Regions from separate parts of the Homo sapiens genome. Here region 1 is linked to region 2. Evidence: fine-mapped expression QTL. A gene starts in region 2. The other region holds a variant in brackets. All regions are shown on one strand. Distances are from middle to middle. Region 1 overlaps GPD1L (glycerol-3-phosphate dehydrogenase 1 like). Region 2 holds the start of GPD1L (glycerol-3-phosphate dehydrogenase 1 like).

What was found. PIP is the estimated chance that this variant, and not a neighbour inherited with it, causes the effect.
Region 1: its variant is fine-mapped to the expression of GPD1L in whole blood (TOPMed, PIP above 0.99). The same link has a PIP of 0.9 or more in T cells.

The regions. Positions count from the first base shown.
Region 1 is chr3:32,139,460-32,147,459 of GRCh38, reverse strand. GPD1L (glycerol-3-phosphate dehydrogenase 1 like) reads right to left here. Exons shown (of 8, transcript NM_015141.4): 4 at 7,094-7,232; 5 at 726-838. Among named protein-coding and RNA genes, the nearest start is that of GPD1L, 37 kb to the right of the region's middle. The variant T/C (reference allele first, on the strand shown) is at 4,086.
Region 2 is chr3:32,094,642-32,110,568 of GRCh38, reverse strand. GPD1L (glycerol-3-phosphate dehydrogenase 1 like) reads right to left here and starts at 3,949. Exons shown (of 8, transcript NM_015141.4): 1 at 3,811-3,949. The coding sequence starts at 3,857. RefSeq lists silencers at 3,547-3,686, 3,807-4,216, 12,186-12,285.

The DNA.
Region 1 (8,000 bases), 41 kb before region 2:
CCCAGGTGTGGAGACCTCCCTTTACCTCAAAAGAGGGGAAAAAAAGATAACATAAACTACATACTTATGATTTTTGTACTTTTCTGTATGAAGTACCTCTTAAAATTTACATTAAAACAAACAAAAATACACCTCCAATCAAAGAAGCCGGACACAAAAGAGTGCATACTGTACAGTTCCACTTACAAAAATCCAGCAAGCCACTGGCCAGTGGAGTGCATTTCTTTAATCACATCTTCTCTCTCTTGAGGGCAAAGACAAAACTATTCTTAGAAAAACCTCTACCAGCAGCAGATTATTTTTTCCCTTAATAAGAACAACCAGCCAAACTAGTAGAGTAGCATAATTCAGAGGAAACAAGTTCCTTTTCCTGCTCAGGATGAAGTGTGGGAGAAAAACATGAATGAATAGAATCATTTGCTCCTGGGTGAAACCCTGTCATCAAGGAACTCCCATGCTTTCCAAATATCAATGCTGCCAACTTCCCAAAGACCAAAACATCACAATTCCCCCATATTTACAAGTTAAAGCAAGCCACGAGTAAGAGAGGAACTGAACCACCCGGGAAAGGCTGCAGCAAAACAGGAAGTTATAAACAAGACTCTCAATTCACTATTCTTCGCTGATGTGGGTGCACAGAACACAGAGCCCATTCTTGAGGATTAGACTCAATGATGCTAACATTTGCCTTGCTTGATGAACTCCTCCCCTGAGGCTGACTTTACCTTAAGCGCACCACAGAGTTCAACAGTGTCTGCATCATCAACCACGGTAATTCGAAAATTTGGAGTCTGCAGAAGTTCTTTGAAGAGAAGGCCGTTCTCCATTACTTTGCTGCCTGTTGAAAGGTTAGACAACAAGGATATTAATAACAGCCTCTAATCTTAATTTTCACACCTAATACACTTTAAAATAAGTTTCTACTTACTATAAAAGTAACATGTTCATGATAGGATATTTAGAAAACACATAGGAGCAGAAATAAAGTAAAAATATCCCGTTTCCAATCGAGGTGATCATTTACAATTTGACATACATTTTTAACTGACCGAATGTGAATCTAAAGTTTTTTTTGGCCAGACACGATGACTCACACCTGTAATCCCAGCACTTTGGGAGGCTGAGGCGGGCAGATCACGAGGTCAAGAGATTGAAGCCATCCTGGCTAACATGGTGAAACCCCATCTCTACTAAAAATACAAAAAATTAGCTGGGCGTGGTGGCACGTACCTGTGGTCCCAGCTACTCAGGAGGTTGAGGCAGGAGCATCGCTTGAACCCAGGAGGTGGAGGCTGTAGTGAGCTGAGATCTCACCACTGCACTCCATCCTGGGCAACAGAGCGAGACTCTGTCTCAAAAAAAAAAAAAAAAAAAAAGAAAAAAGCATGATTGTCAACAAGTAAAACTACACCAAGAAGTGACACAATGTCAAAATAATCCAGGCCATCTGAGGGTTGAGAGAGGGTGGGGAGTGGATGAAATGAGACTGGCCAGGAGTTAATCATTTCTAAAGATGGGTGACGGGCATGTGAGGTTCGTGATACTACTCTACTTTTCTGAAAAGTTTCATAATAAAACACAATATCTACACCCAATACTTAGAAACACAGTCTACTCTGTAGCATTACTGTTCTTTCATTTAGCTGAGTTCCCCTTTTCCAAATGTTAGAACTATGTCAGTTTGTGCAAACTGTTCTCTTCCTTTTTAAACAGTCCACCAGGCTGTCTAGGTGACTCTGTGCAACACTGTTGCATCATCTGGGTTGGGTAAACCAGCCCCTGGCCCCTACATCATATTACAGCCTCATCGTGTCTCCTCCCACTGCTCAGTGCCTCCAACATGAAGCATGCTCCTGAACATTGCAGACCAGCCCCTCCCTCAAGTCACTTTAATCCAGCCATCTGCAGCTGGAAACTTGGGTTGCTGGTGAACAAACTGAGGAATGGGCAGGGGAAGGCACACTCTTGGCTTGCCATAGATACAAGGTAGGGTCTATGGGTTCCTTTGTGGCTGCAAATAACGCAATGCCCATCCAAGAGGTGGGCTTGATTTATAGCAATCTCATATTTTCTCAAAGGTACCTTTTAAAATTTATTACCTTAAATCATGGATAATAGGTAGTAACTTTATTTATTTATTTATGAGACAGAGTTGCTGTGTTGCCCAGGCTAGAGTGCAGTGGCACTATCTCAGCTCACTGCAACCTCCACCTCCCAAGCTCAAGCGATTCTCCCGCCTCAGCCTCCTGAGTAGCTGCAACTATAGGCATGCGCCACCATACTCGGCTAAGTTTTGTATTTTTAGTAAAGATGGGGTTTCGCCATGTTGGCCAGGCTGGTCTCGAACTCCTGACCTCCAGCAATCCACCTGCCTTGGCCTTCCCAAGTGCTGGGATTAAAGGCATGAGCCACCGCACCCGGCCCGCGAATTTTATTATTAATATAATACCAGTCATAAGCCAGCGCGGTGGCTCATGCCTGTAATCCCAGCACTTTGGGAGGCTCAGGTAAGTGGATTACTTGAGGTCAGGAGTTCGAGACCAGCCTGGTCAGCATGGCGAAATCCCATCTCTACAAAAAATTCAAAAATTAGCCTGGCGTGGTGGTGTGTGTGTGTGTGTGTGTGTGTGTGTGTGTTCCCAGCTACTCAGGAGGCTGAGGCATTAGAATCATTTGAGCCCAGGGGGCGGAGGTTGCTGTGAGCCGAGATCACGCCACTGCACTCCAGCCTGGGCAACAGCGTGAGACTCCATCTCAAAAACAACAACAACAACAACAACAAACCCCAGTAATAAACAGTGACATGGCAAGCAGGGACTCAGGGCATCTGTACAGAACAGCTAATGCCGGACAGCCATGTGGGAAGGTTGCCCAAAACTCAATGTAAACCAAAGACAGGAAAATCCCCTTTCTCTGTCACACCAAGTTTTAGAGGCAATTAACCTATGTAATAAAACTCCTTCAAAACCCTTATTTTAGTTTGTGATTCCATATGTGTTTGTGTGCTTACAAGTTCCATAAGGAGCTTATGTATTCTAGACATTTGGCACCATGCCTGATACATAAGAGGGTTTGAAAAATATTTGTGGAATGACTGGATTAAAAGCCTCAGAGTCTGTGGTATGCCCCAAGAACGAAAGGAGACCTTACCACAAGAGGGCACTGTAGTTCACCATGACAGGATTTTGAGGCCTGAAGCTGCCCTATCTTTTCCCTCCACAGAAGATTCAAGTGGGCCACGATTCCTGAACCTACCGCAATTTAAAATAGTCCCTATGCATCAACAAAGGATGTCTGGATAACCACACTGCAATGATCAAATACAGAAAATGTAATGTTTACATAATATTATTATCTAACATATAATCCACATTCAAACCTCACCAATCACCTCTGCATTGTCTTCCACAGCAACCCTCCCTGCCTAATCCAGGACCCCACACTGCACATAGTGCTCATGTCTCCTTTTTGATTTTTAGAGACAAGGTCTTGCTCTGTCACCCAGGCTGGAGTGCCATGGTGCGATCACTGCTCATTGCAGCCTCCACCTCCCACGCTGAAGCAATCCTCTCATCTCAGGCTCTCGAGTACCTGGGACCATAGGCGTGCACCACCACACCTGGCTAATTTTTGTATTTTTAGTAAAGATGAGGTTTCGCTTGTCATGTTGACAAGGCTGGTCTCAAACTCCTAACTTCAGGTGATCCGCCCGCCTCAGCCTCCCAAAGTGCTGGGATTACAGGTGTGCGCCACCACACCTGGCTAATTTTTGTATTTTTTGTAGAGATGGGATCTCATTATGTTGCCCAGGCTGGTCTCAAACTCCTAGGCCCAAGTGATCTCCCACCTTGGCCTCCCAAAGTGCTAAGATAATAAGTGTGAGTCACCACGCCTGGCTCGGTAATATATCTTTAGTCCTTTTTATTCTGGGACACTCCTTTAGCCTTTCATTGTCTTTCATGACACTGACTTTTTTGAAGAGTCAAAGATACCATTGGCCTGTTGTTTTATAACATATCTCTTACTTTGGGCTTGTCTGATATTTTCTCATGATTAAATTCAGGTTATAGGCTGGGCACAGTGGC[T/C]CGCACCTGTAATCCCGGTACATCAGCAGGCTGAGGCAGGAGGATCCCATGAGGCCAGGAATTCGAACAAGACTCTACTTTTAAAAATTAATTAATTCAGGTTATATAAAACAATTTTTAAACATCACTTTCATATTCTATCTTACTTTCAATGTTTTACTTAAATTTTTTTTTTTTAAAGAGACAGGGTATTGCTGTCACCCAGGCAGGAGTGCAATGACGTGATCATAGCCACTGCAGTGACTACAGCCTCGCTCAATCTCCTAGCCTCAAGGTGATCCTCCCACAGCAGTCTCCTGAGTAGCTGGGACTACAGGTATGTACTACCATACCAGGCTAATTAAAAAATTTTTTTTTTTCTTTTTTGGAAACTCCCAGCTACATTTCCCAGGGTGATTTCAAACTCTTGGCCTCAGAAGATCCTCGGCTTTAGCCTCACGAGAGCTACTCCACCCAGAAATGCTTTACTTAATTTAATTCAGGTCATCAGTGCTTATCACACTCCACCCCACAGAGAAGGCATAGAAGCACCGGGTAAAGAAATGCCAGAGGGAAAGAAATGCAACTTATGTGCTTTTATCTGTTTTTTAAAACCAAAAAAGCCTAATGTACCCAACTAGAAACTTTCCTACAACAAACAGGGCTAGAGTCCTAGCCAGGATTGGATCAGGGATTGGGATTGCAGATTAAGATTTAGTCTTCCAGAATGAACTGGGAAAGGATTATTGGCAAATAGGATTGAGTTGGAACAAACTAGTTAATCTTTTTGGGAAAATATAAGTAATTACATAACAATTTCACAGGCTATATTAAAACTGCAGATAAATAAAAGAATTTACTGTAAAAGAATAAGACATATTCATATATGTACATACTAGCATACAAATATAAATAAATTTTTTCCAGAAGAATATTTAGAAACTGCTAATAGTAAAAGCCATTAAAAAAGAATGAAATCAGCCGGGCGCGGTGGCTCACATCTGTAATCCCAGCACTTTGGGAGGTTGAGGCAGGTGGATCATGAGGTCAGGAGATCAAGACCATCCTGGCCAACATGGTGAAACCCTGTCTCTACCAAAAATACAAAAATTAGCTGGGCGTGGTGGCGCATGCCTGTAATTCCAGCTACTTGGGAGGCTGAGGCAGGAGAATCGCTTGAACCAGGGAATTGGAGGTTGCAGTGAGCCAAGATAGCACCACTGCGCTCAAGCCTGGCGACAGGGTGAGACTCCATCTCAAAAAAAAAAAAAGAAAATCATGTCCTTTGCAGCATGGATGCAGCTGGAAGCCATTATCCTAAGTGAGTTAACATAGGAACAGAAAACCAAATACTGCATGTTCTCACTTACAAGTGAGGGCTAAACATTGGGTACCCATGAACATAAAGATAGCAACAACAGATACTGGGGACTACTAGAGAGGAGAGAAAGGAGGGAAGGATTGAAAAACTACCTGTGGGGTACTATGCTCACTACCTGGGTGACAGGATTAGTCATAACCCAGACCTCAGCATCATGCAATACACCCATGTAACAAACCTGCACATGTACCCCCGAATCTAAAATAAAAGTTGCAATTATAAAAAACAAAAAAGAAACTGCTAACAGTGATTCCCTCTGGGAAGAGGGAAATGGGTGGGAAATTACAATCTTAGTTCTACTTTTCCACCTTCTCATGGTGCTTGAATTTTTTTTTAAACCTGTGTCTGTATCACTTTCGTAAATGACAACCTGGGCAGGTGGTATCATAGGCTATTCTTTTCTTCTTTGTATTATTTGTGATACTTCTCCTCTCCAACAAATATTATTTTTCAAAAAAAAGTTTTGTATCCAAATATATGGAATTGCTGATGGAATGCTATGCAGTTATGAGGATGTACAGTATGTTAACAGACTCTGAAAGGTTTTTGTTACATATTCAGCGAATAAAGCAATTATTAAACAGCATATGATTCACTACAAACATAATAGTTCATACAAATAGTAAAAAAGGATATATAACAAAATTATCAAAAATTTAAAATGGCTTTCTTTTGATTATCTCTATCTTCCATAATAATCATGTAAAATACCTCCATAATTAAAAATAAAAATTAAGGTAGAAAATTCCAAAAAAATCCTAAAAAGTCCTACGTATAGGCAGGTATAAGAATCTGGAGCTACATTTTCCTGCGCATTCATCTCATGCAAGAGAGCCTGACATCTCTCAGAGCTTCCTTTTACAAAGCTGCCAAGGGGAAATGATTCATATTGCTTGCAGGTTTGATAAGGGTGAAAGTAAGTTCTGCAGTGGTAGATAAACTTTTGCAAAGCATCTGAAAATACAATAATATTACTCTTCCAACAAAGCATCGTTTAATATAGTACACGGACACTTGAGAATTCTCAAAGCCCCTTTCAAAAGAAATGAAAATTTTCATAACGTCAATGTGAGAATAATGTATCTAATGTATAATGTGTAAGAGTAGAAAAGGCTTACTAGTTCAGGAAACAGAAGACTCAAATTTGTTCCTGGCTTCTACATTAGTGTGTGATCTTGGGGCAGGTAATTTATTCTCTGAGTCTTATCATTCACCTGAAAATGGGGGTCATTCAACCAATTTTTAGATCTCACTGGAATCAATGAGGATCCAGATACTAACATTTGTAAGAAAAGAAAATTTGGGCTTCTGAGGCCAGGGGACCCCTACCATGGATGTAGCCACCTGTTTCTTGGTACAAGCAACCTTGCACTTTTGTGTTTAACCTCAGTAATTCATTATTGGATCACAGCAAGTCAGAATGCTCTTCTTGGCTATATTCATTTATATTCATTCTGGAGGTTGTTGAAACACTTCAGTTCCACAAAATAGCCTCCTTAAGTAAAACCCTCGCCCCACTGAATGCCCAACTAAGGAATGTTAAGAGGGACAGGGAAGAGTCTATTACAGAAAATATCAGAAATGGAATATGTACATGTTCAAACATCAAATGTCCAGACTCCTGGGGTCCCTCCCAGGCAGTGCTTACCGATGGTGGTCTCACAGAACTTCTCTGCAGCCACCTCATTGGCAATGTTGGCTCCCATCAGCACACTGATGTCAATACCCATCTTCTCACGGATGATGTCAGAAATGAGCTTCAGCCCCTCGGGGCCCTCGTCTATGCCCTACAAGGATGCCAAGAAGTTAGGAGAGAACAAACCGCCAAATCAAAGAGGCATGGGATAGTAGATGTCCCATGGCTACACAACTTGAAAAATGTCTCCTACTTACAAGAGTAAAAGCATCTATACTGCCTATGTACAGCTTAAAGAAGAATCAAATGAAGAAAATAAACATGTACTCATCACTCGTGTTAAGAAATAGAACGTGACTGACACCACTGAAGTCCCCTGTGTGTCTCCTCTCAAGTTCATCCTCCTTCTACCCCTGCTCCCCAGGGTGAACCACTGTCCTGAATGCTGTATGCATTGCTCCCTTGCTTTTCTTGACTATTTTACCACATCGGATGGTCCCTAGACAATGTTATACGTCATTATCCCTGGGGTTTCAAGTCTATAAAGAGAGTTGTGCCATTCACCTGTGATGTGCTGTCTTGAACTACAATACCGTTTTAGAGATTCACTCATGTGGCTGCATCAAACTTCTGGTTCGTTTCTGTTCACTTACTGCACAGTATTCCAAAATGAATAGTTCACATTTCATTTGTCTACTCTCTTGCTGATGACATTTGGGTTGCTCTGGTTTGCCTTCATGAACATTCATCTGTAAATGCTCTGGCACAGCCTCTCTTGGGAGTTCTTAATCTTTCCAACGACATGGGCCTTACCCCTGGTAGTCTGGTGAAGTTTATGGACTCATTCTCAGAATTTCATATGCATAAAACAAAACACCTAAAATAACCCAGGAATCCAATTATGTTGAAATTTGTTTAA
Region 2 (15,927 bases):
CTAGATTCAATATTCTGATAACTGTATTGCAACTGATGACAATTGACTTGGGAGAGGCACTCCATGTGAGAGTTCTCAAATGTGACAAACACCTTTATTTACACAAACAGGCTAAGCTGCCCTAAAGTTCCAAGTATAAACATTGCTTAAGCAACTTGACATTCCTGAGGTAAGAACCAGATCTGGAAGGGTAGGTCTATCTCTTGGTGATCTGTATTAAAATTGGCAAAAGGCTAAAGTTCCTTCAGAAAAAAAAATCTCATTCTCAGGGGATATGATTAAGCAAGTCTAGTTTCAGTGGTAATTCTGACACAAGTGGTCTTGGGACCACAATTTAAGAAACACGATTTAGGCCGGGCGCAGTGGCTTACGCCTGTAATCCCAGCACTTTGGGAGGCCGAGGCAGGCAGATCACGACGTCAGGAGATTGAGACCATCCTAGCTAACACAGTGAAACCTCGTCTCTACTAAAAAACACAAAAAATTAGCTGGGCGTGGTGGCGGGTGCCTGTAGTCCCAGCTACCTGGGAGGCTGAGGCAGGAGAATGGCGTGAACCCGCGAGGCGAAGCTTGCGGTGAGCTGAGATTGCGCCACTGCACTCTAGCCTGGGCGACAGAGCGAGACTCCGTCTCAAGAAAAACAAAAACAAACAAACAAAAAAAGAAACACGATTTAAAGTGTAACAGAGCAGTTACTCCATTCCACTTGGCAATTCCTTCGGTCTTATCTTCCATGTCCTCACTGATCTCAGACCTGAAGGTAAGTTGTTTAAGGACCGGGACTGTGTCCAGCTGTGTCTGCATCCCTGGTCAGACCACAGTCTCTTCACCGGGCAACACTCAAATGTCTACTGACTAGAGCTGAACACTCCTCTGGGGCTTCTCCATGTTGTTTTCAGTTTCTGAGTTCCTGAATCCCTCTGGGGAGGTTGTGATCCTCTCTCTAGGACTGGAGTAACTCTGTACCCAAGGCAGTGGCACAGAAGCCAAGAATTGTTCCCGTCTAATCCCATAATTAATGAAGCCAGGCAGCCAGCCCAAACCATCAGCACATTTCTCAATTGCTCTGCTTCAGTATCACTGGCCAAGTTCTACTCCATTTCCCTGGGCTGGAGTGGGCCAAGGAAACAGTCAAGTACACCAGAATGAAGAAGCCACGGGCAGGCAGCCAAATCCCAGCAGAGGGGGCAGGAGGCTCACTTCACTACTCTTGCTCCAGGCCCAGTTCCAGCATGGCAGAGCTGTGCTACTTGTCCTGCATCTTGCAAATTAGGAAAAGGGGCTGTCATCTGTGGAATTGTACAGACTAAAAAACTAATGTTAAAAAAACATGTGCTAAATGGGTGCCTTTCAAGTGGCATGGCCAACAGGGGAGCTGACACTGCACTCAAGTGAGCTTGACATTAAAACTGGCAAAGCCGGCCGGGTACGGTGGTTCATGCCTGTAATCCCAGCACTTTGGGAGGAAGAGGCAGGCGGATCATGAGGTCAGGAGATTGAGACCATCCTGGCTAACATGGTGAAACCCCGTCTCTACTAAGAATACAAAAAATTAGCCAGGCATGGTGGCGGATGCCTGTAGTCCCAGCTACTCAGGAGGCTGAGGCAGGAGAATGGCATGAACCCAGGAAGCGGAGCTTGCAGTGAGCAGAGATCGCGCCACTGCACTCCAGCCTGGGCGACAGAGGGAGACTCCGTCTAAAAAAATAGTAATAAAAAAAAACAACTGGCAAAGCCAAGCTGAAAGTCCAAATTAAGCTTTGCAGCAGCAAGCTACCAACTCTATTAAATATTGTGTAGAACATTCTGTTGTTGGTTGAAAAATGCAGCTCACAGAAAAGTATGCAATACCCTAGTATTTGCAGCGTGGAGGGCGAAAGGACTATATGTAAGCATTCACTTGCATGGAATTCCTCCAGAAAGGACAGAAGTAATTCATAACACTGGTTTTCCTCCAGGAGGTACTCAGGGGGGATAAATGTGGATGGGTGATGTTTCACTGTTTTTGGTACTCTTTGGTTTTTGTTTTTTATTTTTTGTTTTGTTTTGTTCTTTTGAGACAGGGTTTCACTCCCTTCACACAGACTAGAGTACGATGGTGCAATCTGATTTTGGCTCACTGCAACCTCTGCCTCCCAGGCTCAGGCGATTCTGCTGCCTTAGCATCCCAAGTAGCCGGGACTACAGGCGCCTGCCACCACACCTGGCTAATTTTTTGTATTTTCAGTAGAGACGGGGTTTCACCGTGGTCTCAATCTCCTGACCTCGTGATCCCCCTGCCTCAGCCTCCCAAAGTGCTGGGATTACAAGCGTGAGCCACCATGCCCGACTAATATTTTATTTTTTGTAGAGGCGGGGTTTTGCCGTGTTGCCCAGGCTAGTCTCAAACTCCTGGGCCCACCTCAGCCTCCCAAAGTGCTGGGATTACAGGCATAAGCTACTGCGCCCAGCCCTGGTTGTTAAACAATGTGAATGTATTATTCAATCAAATATCATTATGGTTTTAAAAATTAGTTTTTAGGCAGGGAGCGGTGGCTCACACCTGTAATCCCAGCTACTCAAGTGGATGAGGCACAAGAATCGCTTGAATCCAGGAGGTGGAGGTTGCAGTGAGCCAAGATCGCACCACTGCAACAGAGTCTTAGTATTGACTTAGCATATGCCAGGCACTAGGGTAGATGCCATTCTCAAAAGTTGGGAGACAGATAATCAAATAACTCCTTATAATGCAGTGATGCAGGCCAGCAATAGGGACACAGAGAGAGGCCACTGGCCTTGCTGGGATGGAAAAGTGAAGAACCAGGTAAGGTTTCCTTCAATAAGTACTTTCTGGGCCAAGTCTTGAAAGAGTAAAACTAAGACCAACTACCTAGGACCAGCTGCTGCAGCACTTCTGATGCCTGTCACGCCACAGAAAAACCGGTAAACAGAAGCACTGAAAGGACATCATCACTCTTAACTATTGTACACCAGTCCCTCCAATGTGGCAGAGTGTACAGCAATGAAAAAAGGCTTGGAAACACCAGATGCTACACTTTGCTTCCTTCCCCCTTCACACCCCCACCTCTACATTCACCCAAACACACCAGAGAATCCCACAGTGTACGTTTGATTAAGGGTACTAGAAGAACTGACATTTCTAATGTGCTCTATAAAATGTTAAAGTCAAATAAGGCCCCAAAGAGACGCAAAGCTTCGCAAACATCTCGGCAAGGGAGAATTCTCAACGCCTCAGGGAGAGCGGCCTGTTGAAACTTGGATTTTCTTCCTGATACGACGCGCCTAAGATAGTGGACCTATCAGAAGCGGGGGCGAGACGGGCACCTTGAAGGGCAGAGCATGCCCCGCCCGTGACCTGGGCAGCAAGAGCCCTTTAGCCCTCTCCGCCTCGGTTTCCTCAACACCGAAACTGCAGTAAGAATGCTCGAGCCTCCACCAAGTCCTTGACCCAGGAGATCCGCCGTGGAGAACGGAATACGCCCTTAGGATATTGTGCAAAACACCCAGGCGTGGCAAGCAGGTGGCTTCTGTGCGCTCAGTAACGGGGGCGCAGACAGGTGCCCGCGTGCTCGGGGTGCCCTCTCTCCGCGCTGTCCCCCGCACGCACGCGAGCCCAGCGCCTCCCGAGCGAGTGCCCCGGTGCGGCCTCCTCGGGCGCACGGTGCCCAGCCCAGCAACGAGGTCGCCCACCCCGCCTCCCTGCGCGCAGTGCCCGGTGCCCACGCCGCAGCATGGGGCGCGCAGCCCTCACCGCCCGGGAGAGGCGCTTCCTGGAAGCGGAGCCCCGGCCTCCAGCCCGCCGCCGCTCACCAGTTCCCCGAGCCCACGATGCACACTTTCAGGGGCGCCGCTGCCATGGCCGGGCCGAATGTAGCCGCCTGGACCGTGCTTCCCTGGCCGGCTGCCCACCTCCGCCTGTTCAGCCTTGCCCGCAGCGGCTGGCGGCGGCCCCGCCCCTTTCGCCTCTCCGCCAATGGTCGCGGCCACCCCCGCCCGGCGCCGGGGGCCGCAGCTGACAGCGGGGCAGGACCCGCTTCGCCACTCCCAAGAACCACTGCGCACGCCTGGCCCCGGCCGGCCTCCAGGCCCGGCTCCGGCACCGCCCCGCCCTGCCCGAGGCACGTCGGGACATGTAGTCCTCACCCCCCGTCGCTGCGCGGCCCTAGGCAGCAGCTCCCGCCGCGCCACATGCAGGCCCAGGCCACTGAGCAGCGACTCGCGCCCCTGGTTCCCGGTGGAGGCTGCACTCCATCCTCATGGGTGGAGCAGACCCAACCAGCTTGCCGTGGTGCCCCCTACACGCTCCTTTTTCCCTACTCGGGAAGGGCTGCCACATTGCCATTTGGAGCCGAGAGAGGCTCCTAGGTTGACTCTCAAGCCGACCAGACTTGGGGCAGAGCTCGAAATGCCCACCCGACCTTGTCATCCTCTGTTTCATTTGCACAAACAAGACACAGCCTGGCACCTCTGAACTTCTTAGAGAACTTGGATCTTCAGAGGACTTTGGAATTTGGCTGAACAGTACCTGCATTTCAAGGATGACACCTTTTCTAGTTAGAGTCAAGATAGAAACTTGACCTGGTGCAGTGGCTCACACCTGTAATCCCAGCACTTTTGGAGGCCGAGTCAGGAAGATCACTTGAGCCCAGGAGTTCGAGACCAGCCTGAGCAACATAATTAGGACCCCCCACCCCTCTGTACAAAAATTTAAAAAATTAGCCAAGCATGGTGGCACGCACCTATAGTCCTAGCTACTCAGGAGGCTGAGGCGGGAGAATTGCATGTGCCCAGGAGGTCGAGGCTTCAGTGAGCCAGGATAGGGCCACTGCACTCCAGACTGAAGGACAGTGAGACCCTGTCTCAACAAAAAATAAATACATAAAAATAAAGGGAAAAAGGTAACAACAGCTTGCATTCAGTGGGTGTCACCCTCACACGCTTACTTGGCAGGAATTGCTTTACCATTGTCTTTGCCCAGGGCCTGACTTATCCCTTGCTTGTGGTTTGTTTGCATTTGTGAGTAACACAATGCTCTCCTCCTTGACAAATAGAATCTTAGTTTGTTCATTCTGAGCATCAGTCTCTGCCAGGCACTGTGCTAGACGCTGTCAGAGTAGGACAAAGTCCTTTAAACCAGTGGTTCTCAAACTCTGCTGCATATTAGTCACTGGGGCTTTTAAAAATCCCCATGCCCAGACACCATTGCAGGCCAGTTACATCAGAATGTCCCATGGTGGGATCCAGGCATCAGGATATTTACTTATTGACATATATTTTTTGAGACAGTCTCCTTCTGTTGCCCAGGCTGGAGCAGAATTTTTTAAAGTTCAAGAGGTAGTTGCAAAAGCAAGCCAAGATTGAGAACCAGAAGACTAAAATATCAGTGGATTCTGGCTAAAGAAACAAATACTCTAGTACCTACAAAAAACTAAGCCTAGGCCGGGTGCCGTGGCTCACGCCTATAACCCCAGCACTTCAGGAGGTCGAGGCAGGCAGTTCACCTGAGGTCAGGAGATGGAGACTAGTCTGCCCAACTTGGCAAAACCCCGTCTCTACTGAAAATACAAAAAATTAGCCAGGCATGGTGGCAGATGCCTGTAATCCCAGCTACTCAGGAGGCTGAGACAGGAGAATCTCTTGAACCTGGGAGGCGGAGGTTGCAGTGAGCCGAGATCTTGCCTGGGCGACAAGAGCGACACTCCGTTTCAAAAAAATGATAGTAATACTAAGCCTATTAGTTTGATGCTCAGAGAACTGTTATTTTTGCTTTTTTCTCTACATTGTATGAAATATTTATTTGTGTTACTTATGATATTTACTTAAGGAAATACTTAAAGGGAGCTGGTGAGTCAGAGCAGTCTTTCCATCCCCTCACCAATGGTTTGTTCTCAATTATTTGCACTAATGCAAGGATACATGCAGGGATAATGGGAAAGATGGACTAGTAAAGCTTTATTAATCCTTTCTGTATTTGTGTAACAGAACGCATTTGTCAAATTGAATAATGAAGTCATGTCCTTGGGTAGTACACATACACTGCAAATATTTATGTTATCTAACTGAACTAGGGTCCCTTCACCTGACACAGTAAGGCCAAATACCCACACCAAGGTTTGCAGAGGGAGAAAGAAGGGTGTTTATCTGTAGGGTACCAAGCAAGGAGAATCAGGTAGCTCCTCCTTGATGGCTGGCAAGTAAGGGTTTTTAAAGGCAGCTGGGGGCCAGGCGCGGTGGCTCACACCTGTAATCTCAACACTTTGGGAGGCCGGGGTGGGAAGATTGCTTGAGCTCAGGAGTTCAAGACCAGGCTGGATAACACATACCGTGTCTCTACAAAAAATTAAAATTAGCTGGGTGTCCCAGCTAGTCGGAATAGGCTGAGATGAGGGGATTACTTGAGCCTAGGAGGTCGAGGTTGCAGTGAACTGTAATTGTGCCACTGCACTCCAGCCTGAATGAAAGAGCAAGACCCTGTCTCAAAAATAAAAAGTAAAATAAAGGTGCGTGGGGCAGAGGTTACAGGCAAAGTCATAAATCAATACATGGAGCTACACATTGGTTTGACCTAAAAAAGCAGGACATCTCAAAGTGGGGGAGGGGGACCCACAGGTCATAGGTGAATCAGAGATTTTCTTTTTTGCAATTGGTTAAGGAACTTTAGACAAAGCTTTGTCTAAAAATTTGGGGTCAGTAGAAAAGAACGTTAGTTCTCAGCCTGGGCAGTATAGGGAGACCCCATCTCTACAAAAATAATTTAAAAATTAGCTGACCATGCTGGCACAGACCTGTGGTTCTAGCTACTTGGGAGACTGAGGTGGGAGGATTGCTTGGGCCTGGAAGGTGGAGGTTGCAGTGAGCCATGATTGTGCCACTGCACTCCAGCCTGGGCAACAGAGTGATACACTGTCTCCAAAAAGAAAAAATAAAAGAAAAAAAAAGAATGTTAGTTCTGATTTGCAGACATGACTTTCAGGCCCCTCTGAAAGACGTTGAAGAACAGTGGTCAGAGTTCAATCCTCAGTTCCTCCTTATCTGAGGTCTATATGCCAGTGGATACATTTCGTGAGGGTCTGGGTTTTTAAAAAACAACTCAGGGACATAGTTAAGATGCATCATTAGTTTCTATAGGGACCATCTTCTGACTCTAACTTCCTTGGCTTTTTATTTTTGATTTTTTTTTTTTATTTTGAGGTAGAGTCTTGCTCTGTCATCCAGGCTGGAGTGCAGTGGCACAATCTCAGCTCACTGCAACCTCTGCCTCCCAGCTCAAGTGATCCTCTCCCTCAGCCTCTCAAGTAGTTGGGACTACAGGTACATGTCACAATGCTAATTTTTGTATTTTTTGTAGAGACGGGATTTTGCCATGTTGCCCAGGCTGGTCTCGAACTCCTGAGCTCAAGTGATCTGCCTGCCTCAGCCTCCCAGAGTGCTGGGATTACAGGCGTGAGCCACTGTGCCCGGCCTTGGCTATTGTTTTAAGCTACTATTACCTTCTTGCTTATTAATTTGCTCATTTACTTCTAAAGGCTGGGAAGGTGCCTGGAATTTCCCTTGAAGGAACTCAAGATTTTCTGTTATTTCCATGCTTGGGAGATCCACAGGCCTTTAAGAGAGGTCCCTGCTCTTAAATGATTTTGTAAAGGTCCCTTTACACCAAATGATTCATTTTTAGCAGTTGCCTAAAAGTTTTTAGTTTATTTTAAAAAAGGTTTTTTTTTGGTAGAAACAGGGTCTTGCTACGTTGCTCAGGCTGATCTTGAACTCCAGGTCTCAGGCAATCTTCCTGCCTTGGCCTCTCAAAGTGCTGGGATTATAGGCAAGAGCCACCACGCCTAGCCACCTAAAAGTTTTTTGTTTTTTTTTCTTTTTTTTAAATTTTTTGGGGGTCACGTAAAAGTTTTGTACCTTCTCTGGAAACTCTTATTCCTGAATATTACAACTACATTTGCATGAACGTGAGCTACCCACCTATTCTGTGTGTTGGGGTGATCAGACCCAACACTAAGCTGTGGGTGCTACGAAGTCCAGCAGAGTCAAAGGAATGAGAAAAGACAAGAGAGAAAGTGGGACCAGGGGGCCAACGCTAGTATGGAGGCTGCAAAGGCCCTGAGCTCTGGGAGCCCACGCTATTTATTGGTGATAAAACAAAGAAACAGGTGGTGAGGATGTGGGGGTTGGAAGGAAGTGGCGTATCAAGCGAATGAGCTATAGCTGTGAGAGTTTAGCATTTTCTTTGAAACATATGGCTACTTGAGATAATGGGAGTGCTAAAAGCAAGGAGCCCGCAAGTCTAGACCCATTCCAAAGGCCACGAGGGGTTTTAGACCCTGGACCCCTGACATGTTCCAAGCCCTGCCTCAGGTTCTCTCCCAACACTCAGCTTTTCTCCCAACACTGTGGACATATCCTGCCCAGCATCATCCTACAGTGTTTACTGGTCACCTGATATGCACAGCACATTGTGCCAGAACAGAGAGGATAGTCATTTGGTTTTACAGACTGGTTACAAAGATTAAGACAAAAAACAAATAGGTGAAATTTATGAACTTAATGTTGAGAGAATAAAGCAAGTTTCGGGAGAATACATACAGTGTGATCCCATTTCTGTTAGTTAAGAAACAAGCAAAAATAAATCTATCACTAGGGATTCACATGTAGTGAAACCATAGAGGAAAACAAAGAAAGGAAACACACAAAATGCAGGATCATGGATATGGTGAAGGGCAGGATTAGTTATTTATACATTTTGCACATATTAAATAATTTTTGTGTAGATGTTTAATGAAAATCATGGGGGAAAGGAGAAGCCACAGTACAGAGGACTGAAGAATGCCAGACGAATCACAGTGGATAGGAACTAGTGACCTGCTTTCCAATTTTGAGATAGCTGATCTTCTGCCAGTCCCACTCTCTTTTGTCTAAGATGACAGTGCCAACGATGTTGCCACCTTCTCCAAAAGGGTTGAGTAGCCTGGAAGACAAAAGGTTAGCCATTGTCATTGTGACAGTGCCAACTCTTCGGGGACCTGGAGAAGGCTTAGGGCAGGGGTGTCCAATCTTTTGGCTTCCCTGGGCCACACTGGAAGAACTGTCTTGGGCCACACATAAAACACTAATGATAGCTGATAAACTAAAAAACAAAACAAACAAACAAAAACTTGCAAAAAGAATCTCATAATGCTTTAAGAAAGTTTACGAATTTGTGTTGGGCCGCATGCGGTCCATAGGCTGTGGGTTGGACAAGCTTGGCATAGGGTGTCTATAATTTCATGCATGGAGACAATGTCTTTAACAACATGACTGGTTCATGCATTGTGGTAGAAAGAGGTGCCACTAGCTAGCCAAGTAAAAATCAGGCAGCACTTTGGAAACTCAGCCCAGAAATCTTCTTAGAAAGGTCACTGAGTTCATGAAGTACACTTTTTATTTTCCACATTACAGAAGGCCACGGCAACAGTGTTGCCAAACTTTTCTATGTAACTGGAGTCCCCTTTCCTCTCTCCAGATAACATTTCCCTCACTTTTAAGTCCTCACTCCCAGCCTCCTACACCATTACTAACATGCTCCCAGAGGCGTTTCTGGCTTGTATCTGCTGCCCAGTCCCAAAGCCAGTGCTGCGTGTTATGGTATTATCAATACTCCACTTCCAGGTATCAAAATCTGTCCTGATTATTGCTTGTTGCATAACAAACCATACCAAAATGTAGATCTTAAACAACATTTCTTTATCTCTGGAATCTTACATGGGGGTGGATGTTCAAATGGGGCTGGAAGGTCCACTTCCAAGATGATTTGCTTGGATGGAGCAAGATGGAGGCCAAAATGGCTGCCAAATTGTGGGTGTTGCTGCCTGGGAGCTTGGCAGAAGCTGAGGGCTGGAGGCTGGAGTCCTCTACGTGGGCCTCTCTGGAGCTGCTTCTCCATGGCATAGTGCCTGCGTTCCGCAAGGAAGCATCCCAAGAAAAACAAAATGGAAATTGCCGATTTCTTAAGACTTGAGTCCAGAAATGGCCATGACATCACTTTTGTTGTGATCTTTTGGTCAAGAAATTACAGAGCCCAAATTCTAAAGGAAGGGACATAGGCTCTACCTCTCGTTAAAAGAAGTGTCAAAGAATTTGGGGATTATGTTTTAAAATTGCCATTGCCATGCTCTATATTATATATTCGTATTACAAGTGAGGACACTAAGGTACAGCAACACTAATAAACACTTTCCAAGGGTCCAGTGGTGAGTCAGGACCAGAATTTTTGGATTCATATCCTGCACTTATCAACTGTTCATTTATTCTACATGTACTTACTGAGCACCTACTATGTGCTGGTCACTGTGCTGGGTCCCAAGAATTAAATATTAAACAAAAGCTGGATGAGGTGGCTCACACCTGTAATCCCAGTACTTTGGGAGGCTGAGGTGGGCGGATCACTTGAGCTCAGGAGTTCGAGACCAGCCTGGGCAAGACCCCATCTCTAAAAAAAAAAAAAAAAAAAAATTAGCCAGGTGTGGTGGTGCATGCCTGTAGTCCCACCTATTCAGGAGGCTGAGGCAGGAGAATCACTTGACCCCAGGAGGTGGAGGTTGCAGTCAGCTGAGATCGTGCCATTGCACTCCAGCCTGGACAACAGAGTGAGAGTCTGTCTCAAAAACAAACAAAGAAGAGAGGCAAGGTTCCTGACCTCTTAGATGCTTATATTTAAAGGAAGATGTAGACCAATGAACAGGGAAACACCCTAGTGTGATAAATGGTACCAGCTTACTATGGCAGCTCAGAAAAAGACCCTTGTCCCAGATTTGGGAGTTTAGGGAAGGCTTCCTAGATAAAGTAAGATCTCTGCTGAAACCTGAAGAGAAGGTAGCATCGGCAAAGTAAAGGGGTGGGAGAGCAGCTAATGAGCTGCTCCATGCAGAGGGAACAGCACAGGCCAAAGTTCAGAGTCTAGAGAGAGAATGGGATATTCAGAAGCTAAGAGGAGTTTAGTATGGATGGAGGGAAGAATGAATGAGTGACAGAATATGAGGGGAAAGGGGGAATGGAAATAAATAAAAGCAGAGAGGTAGAGGAGGTACCTGATTATGGTTGGCCTTATAAAGCATATTGAAGAATTAGAACTGAAATCCTGAAGGCCAAAAAAACCATTATAGGGTTTCACCAGGAGCTTAACATCATCAGTCTTGTGTCATAGGAAGCATGCTCTGGATGAATTCACAGGGAAAAGTCCCGAAGGCTGAGGCCAGGAAGGAGCCTGCTGCTGTATTCTATAAGAGCCATCATAATGGCTTAGAGTGAGATGGAGACCAGTGTGGTGGTAACAGTGATGGAGACAGGTGATTGAAAGTCAGACATATCTAGGAAGCAGAAAAAAGAGACTTACTACTTTCTCAGGTGGGAGAGAGAAAAGGGTCTAGGATGACTCCAGCTATCAGTCTTGGGCAACTGAATGAATATCATTTGCTAAAATGGGGAACCCAGGAAGAGAAACCGATCTAGAGAGAAGGATGATGAACTCAGTTCTAGACAAGTTAAGTTTGGGGGAAGGTCGTTTGATATCGAAGTTCAGATTTCAGGGAGGCAGTTGGATATGTGAGCCTGAGATAGACACATTTGTCATTTACCAGCATGTACTTAGAAGTTGCAAGTGGTCAGTGCCTAGAACAATGCCTAGCACAGAGTGGGCACTCAATAAATGTTGAATGAAAGTGATTGGGATCACTCAGAGAGATGGGAAGACAAACCAGGATAGACTCTGGAATGGACTTAATATTAAAGAAGAGAAGCATGAGAGGATGAGAAAGAAACAATGAGAACATTGTGTGGTATCACAGTTGCCAAAGGAAGGCAACATTTCAAGAAGGAAGGATGGTCACAGGGGAGTTGAAAGTGGTCAAATAAAAACTAGGGCTGGGTGCAGTGGCTATTCTATGCTTGTAACCCCAGCACTTGGGGAGGCTGAGATGGGCAGATCGCTTGATCCCAGGAGTTTGAGACCAGCCTGGGCAACACAGCAAGACTGTCATAAAAAAAAAAAAATGGATAGGACTAAAGTATAATGCATCTTTCTTTCTTTCTTTTTTTTTTTTGAGACGGAGTCTCGCTCTGTCACCCAGGCTGGAGTGCATTGGCGCGATCTCTGCTCACTGCAAGCTCCGCCTCCCGGGTTCACGCCATTCTCCTACCTCAGCCTCCCAAGTAGCTGGGACTACAGGCACCCGCCACCACGTCCAGCTAATTTTTTGTATTTTCAGTAGACGGGGTTTCACTATGGTCTGGCTCCTGACCTCGTGATCTGCCCGCCTCGGCCTCCCAAAGTGCTGGGATTACAAGCGTGAGCCACTGAGCCCGGCCGTGTAATGTATCTTTCGGGCTTGGAGGATGTTGGTAGGGTCCTCATATGGTTGTGCAGGTAGCACACTGCACAACACCAGCAGGCACCATGCACATTGCAGACATTGCAGATTGGTATACCTAAGATGACTATTTTCTGATAGATGGAAGCAAGCGTCTTGAAAAAGGGAAATGTTTTTCCAGTCCATATGAAAGCAATATATGGGCTAGCCACAGGCCTGTTTTTTTCTGTATCTGGTCAGAGTAAGTCACTTTCAGTTTTGGGGCAGAGCATAAACTCATTGTGTGGTGGGTGGAGGTATAAATAAATGGAAGGTAGGGAAGTGAGGCTTGAGAAAGTACAGATATCTTAGTCTGTTTGTGCTGCTGTAACAAAATACCTGAAACCAGGCAATTTATAAAGAACAGAATTTTTTTGTTTGTTTGCTTTTTTTTGAGACAGGGTCTCCCTTTGTCGCCCAGGCTGGAGTGCAATGGCAGGATCTTGGCTCACTGCAACCTCCATCTCTCAGGTTCAAGTGGTTCTCGTGTTTCAGCCTCCTGAGTAGCTGGGATTGCAGGCTTGTACCATTATGCCTGGCTATTTTTGTATTTTTAGTAGAGAGAGGGTTTCACCATGTTGGCCAGGCTGGTCTCAAACTCTTGGCCTTAAGTGATCTGCCTGCCTTGGCCTCCCAAACTGCTGGGATTACAGGCATGAGCCACCGAGCTCAGCCCAGAAATTTATGTCTTAGTTCTGGAACCTGGAAAGTCCCAGGTCAAGGTGCTGGCATTCAGTGTCTGGTAAAGGCCTTCTTGCTTGTCCTCACATGATGGAAGAGCAGAGGGAAAAAAAAAAGGGCCTAATTCCCTGTATCGCTTTTATGAAGTCATAATCTGGCCAGGTGCTGTGGTTCATGACTATAATCCCAGCACTTTGGGAGGCTATCATGGGAGGATTGCTTGAGCCCAGGAGTTTGAAACCAGCCTGGACCACTTGGCAAGACCTTGTCTCTACAAAAAAATTTTTAAAATAGCTGGGCATGGCGGTGCACACCTATATCCCCAGCTACTTGGGAGGCTGAGGTGGGAGGCTCCCTTGAGGCCAAGAGGTTAAGGCTTCAGTGATTGTGTCACTGCACTCCAGCCCGGGCAATAGAGCAAGCCTGTCTCAAATAAACAAATAAAGTCATAATTCCCAATTAGAGCCCTCATGACTTAATCACCTCCTAAAGGCCCCACCCCTTAATACTATCAAATTGGGGATTAAGTTTCAACATGAATTTTGGAGAAGACACAGACATTCAAACTGCAGCAGTAGACAGTGTTTTCTAGAAGTTTGGCTGTGAGAAGATGAGAGCTAGGGACACGAGGAAAAGGAGAGGCAAAACTAAAGAGTAGCAAAATAATTTTAGTTTTTTTGTGCTTGTTTGTTTTACATCATGTGGAGGAGGCTAGAATATGTTGAACTAGTCCTGGGGAGGAGCCAACAGAGAGGGAGATATCTAAAATACAGGAGAGGCCAGGTGCAGTGGTTCATACCTGTAATCCCAGTAGGAGGATCTCTTGAGTAGTTGTGATTCCAGCTACTCGGGAGGCTGAGGCAGGGGGATCCCTTGAACCCAACAGTTTGAGGTTGCAGTGAGCTATGATTGTGCCACTGCACTCCAGACAGAGCAAGACTCTGTCTCAAAAGGTAAATAAAATGAAATACAAAAGAGAGACTGAGAATGAGATTGGGAGTAAGAGTGAGAGATAAATTAGTCTTTTTTTTTTTTTAATTGAGACAGAGTTTTGCTCTTGTTGTCCAGGCTGGAGTGCAGTGGCGTGATCTTGGCTCACTGCAACCTCTGCCTTCTGGTTTCAAGTGATTCTCCTGCTTCAGCCTCCCGAGTAGCTGGGATTACAGGCACCCGCCACCATGCCAGGCTAATTTTTGTATTTTTAGTCGAGATGGCATTTCACCATGTTGGCCAGGCTGGTCTCGAACTCCTGACCTTATGATCCGCCTACCTCGGCCTCCCAAAGTGTTGGGATTACAGGCGTGAGCCATGCGCCCAGCCAAGGGATTAGTCTTATATTAGACAAGATGGTCCCAGAAAAATTCTCTGAGAAGGAGACATCTGAACGCATGGAAGGAGCCTGCCATGGGAAGGTGGGAAGAAGACAACTCCAGGGAGGGGGACTGCTAGTGTAAAGGCCCCGAGGCAGTGCAGAGCCTGCATGTTTGAGGAACAGAAAACTATAATTAATAAGTAAGTATGAGAGAGAGGAGCATTTCAGTCAGAGACACAGTCAGCCCAGATTAAATAGCAGGGTCTTGTGGTCCATAGTATTAAAAAAAAAAAAAAAAAGGATTTCCCACTAGGCAAATCTGAGTCAATGCATGCATTAAAATTAATAATAATAGTTATGAATTTAAACTCTTTGAATAAAAGTTCATGAGCCTATACCGATTCAAAGAAACAAGTAAACAAACAAGGCAGAAGGGAAATAAGTAAACAAACAAGGCAGACAAACAAGTCAAATGTCAACCCATAAATATGGAAAGAATGATGGCTCTAGACAATCATCAATGGATGCTAACAATAGTGACGAAAGTTTGATGTGGGACAGGATATTTATTTAGCATTAAAGTGTCCACACAAATTGTTTACAAAGGATAAAACAGTAACTTTACTGTAGAGTAAACTGGCTGACACCACCTTAACCACATGGTCAAAGTCATTGCCAGTGACGGGACAAACTGATACATGCATCTTCTTTAACTAAAATGAGAAGATATTTACTTAATATCAGTGTGTTAGATATTTATTTTTAAAAATAGGACTTCAGGATTTTACAGATTAAAATATTTTTAATTCTTTTGATGTCTGACAGAGACTTGTCCATTTTCTCCAAGTAAGGACATAAGCTATTACCATATCCGATTACCATTTTATTTCATCTTATTTTATTTTAATTCATCTTATTAATCTTACTTTAATTAACTTATATTTTGAATAATTAATGCATCCATTTGGCTCAAAACCCAAAAGTCTTAAAGAGGTATACAGTGAAATCCCTTTCTTTTACAGCAGATGCCCAATTCCCTCCTTTGAAGAAACCCTTGTTCTCAATCCCAATTTCTTTGTGTATCCTTCCAAGAATATTCCATGCATATACAAATACATTTTTTTCCTCTCTCTTTTTTTGTTTTTGAGACAGAGTTTCGCTCTGTTGCCTGGCTGGAGTGCAGAGGCACAAACATGGCTCACAGCAGCCTTGACCTCCTAACTTCAAGCAATTGATCCTCTCACTTCATCCTTCCAACTAGCTGAGACTACAGGTGCGAGCCACCATACCTGGCCAATTTTAAAAAGTTTTTGGTAGAGATGAAGTTTCACTGTGCTGCCCAGGCTGGTCTTGAACTCCTGGGCTCAAGAGATCCTCTGGCCTCAGCCTTTCAAAGTGCTGGGATTACAGGCGTAAACCACTGCGCCTGGCTCCTCTTGTTTTTAATTAGTATGCTATGCACATTGTTCTGTTACTTGCTTTTTCACTAGATGTCATTTCGCATTAAAAATGTCAGTCAACATAAGAAAAGGATGCATATAATGAAAA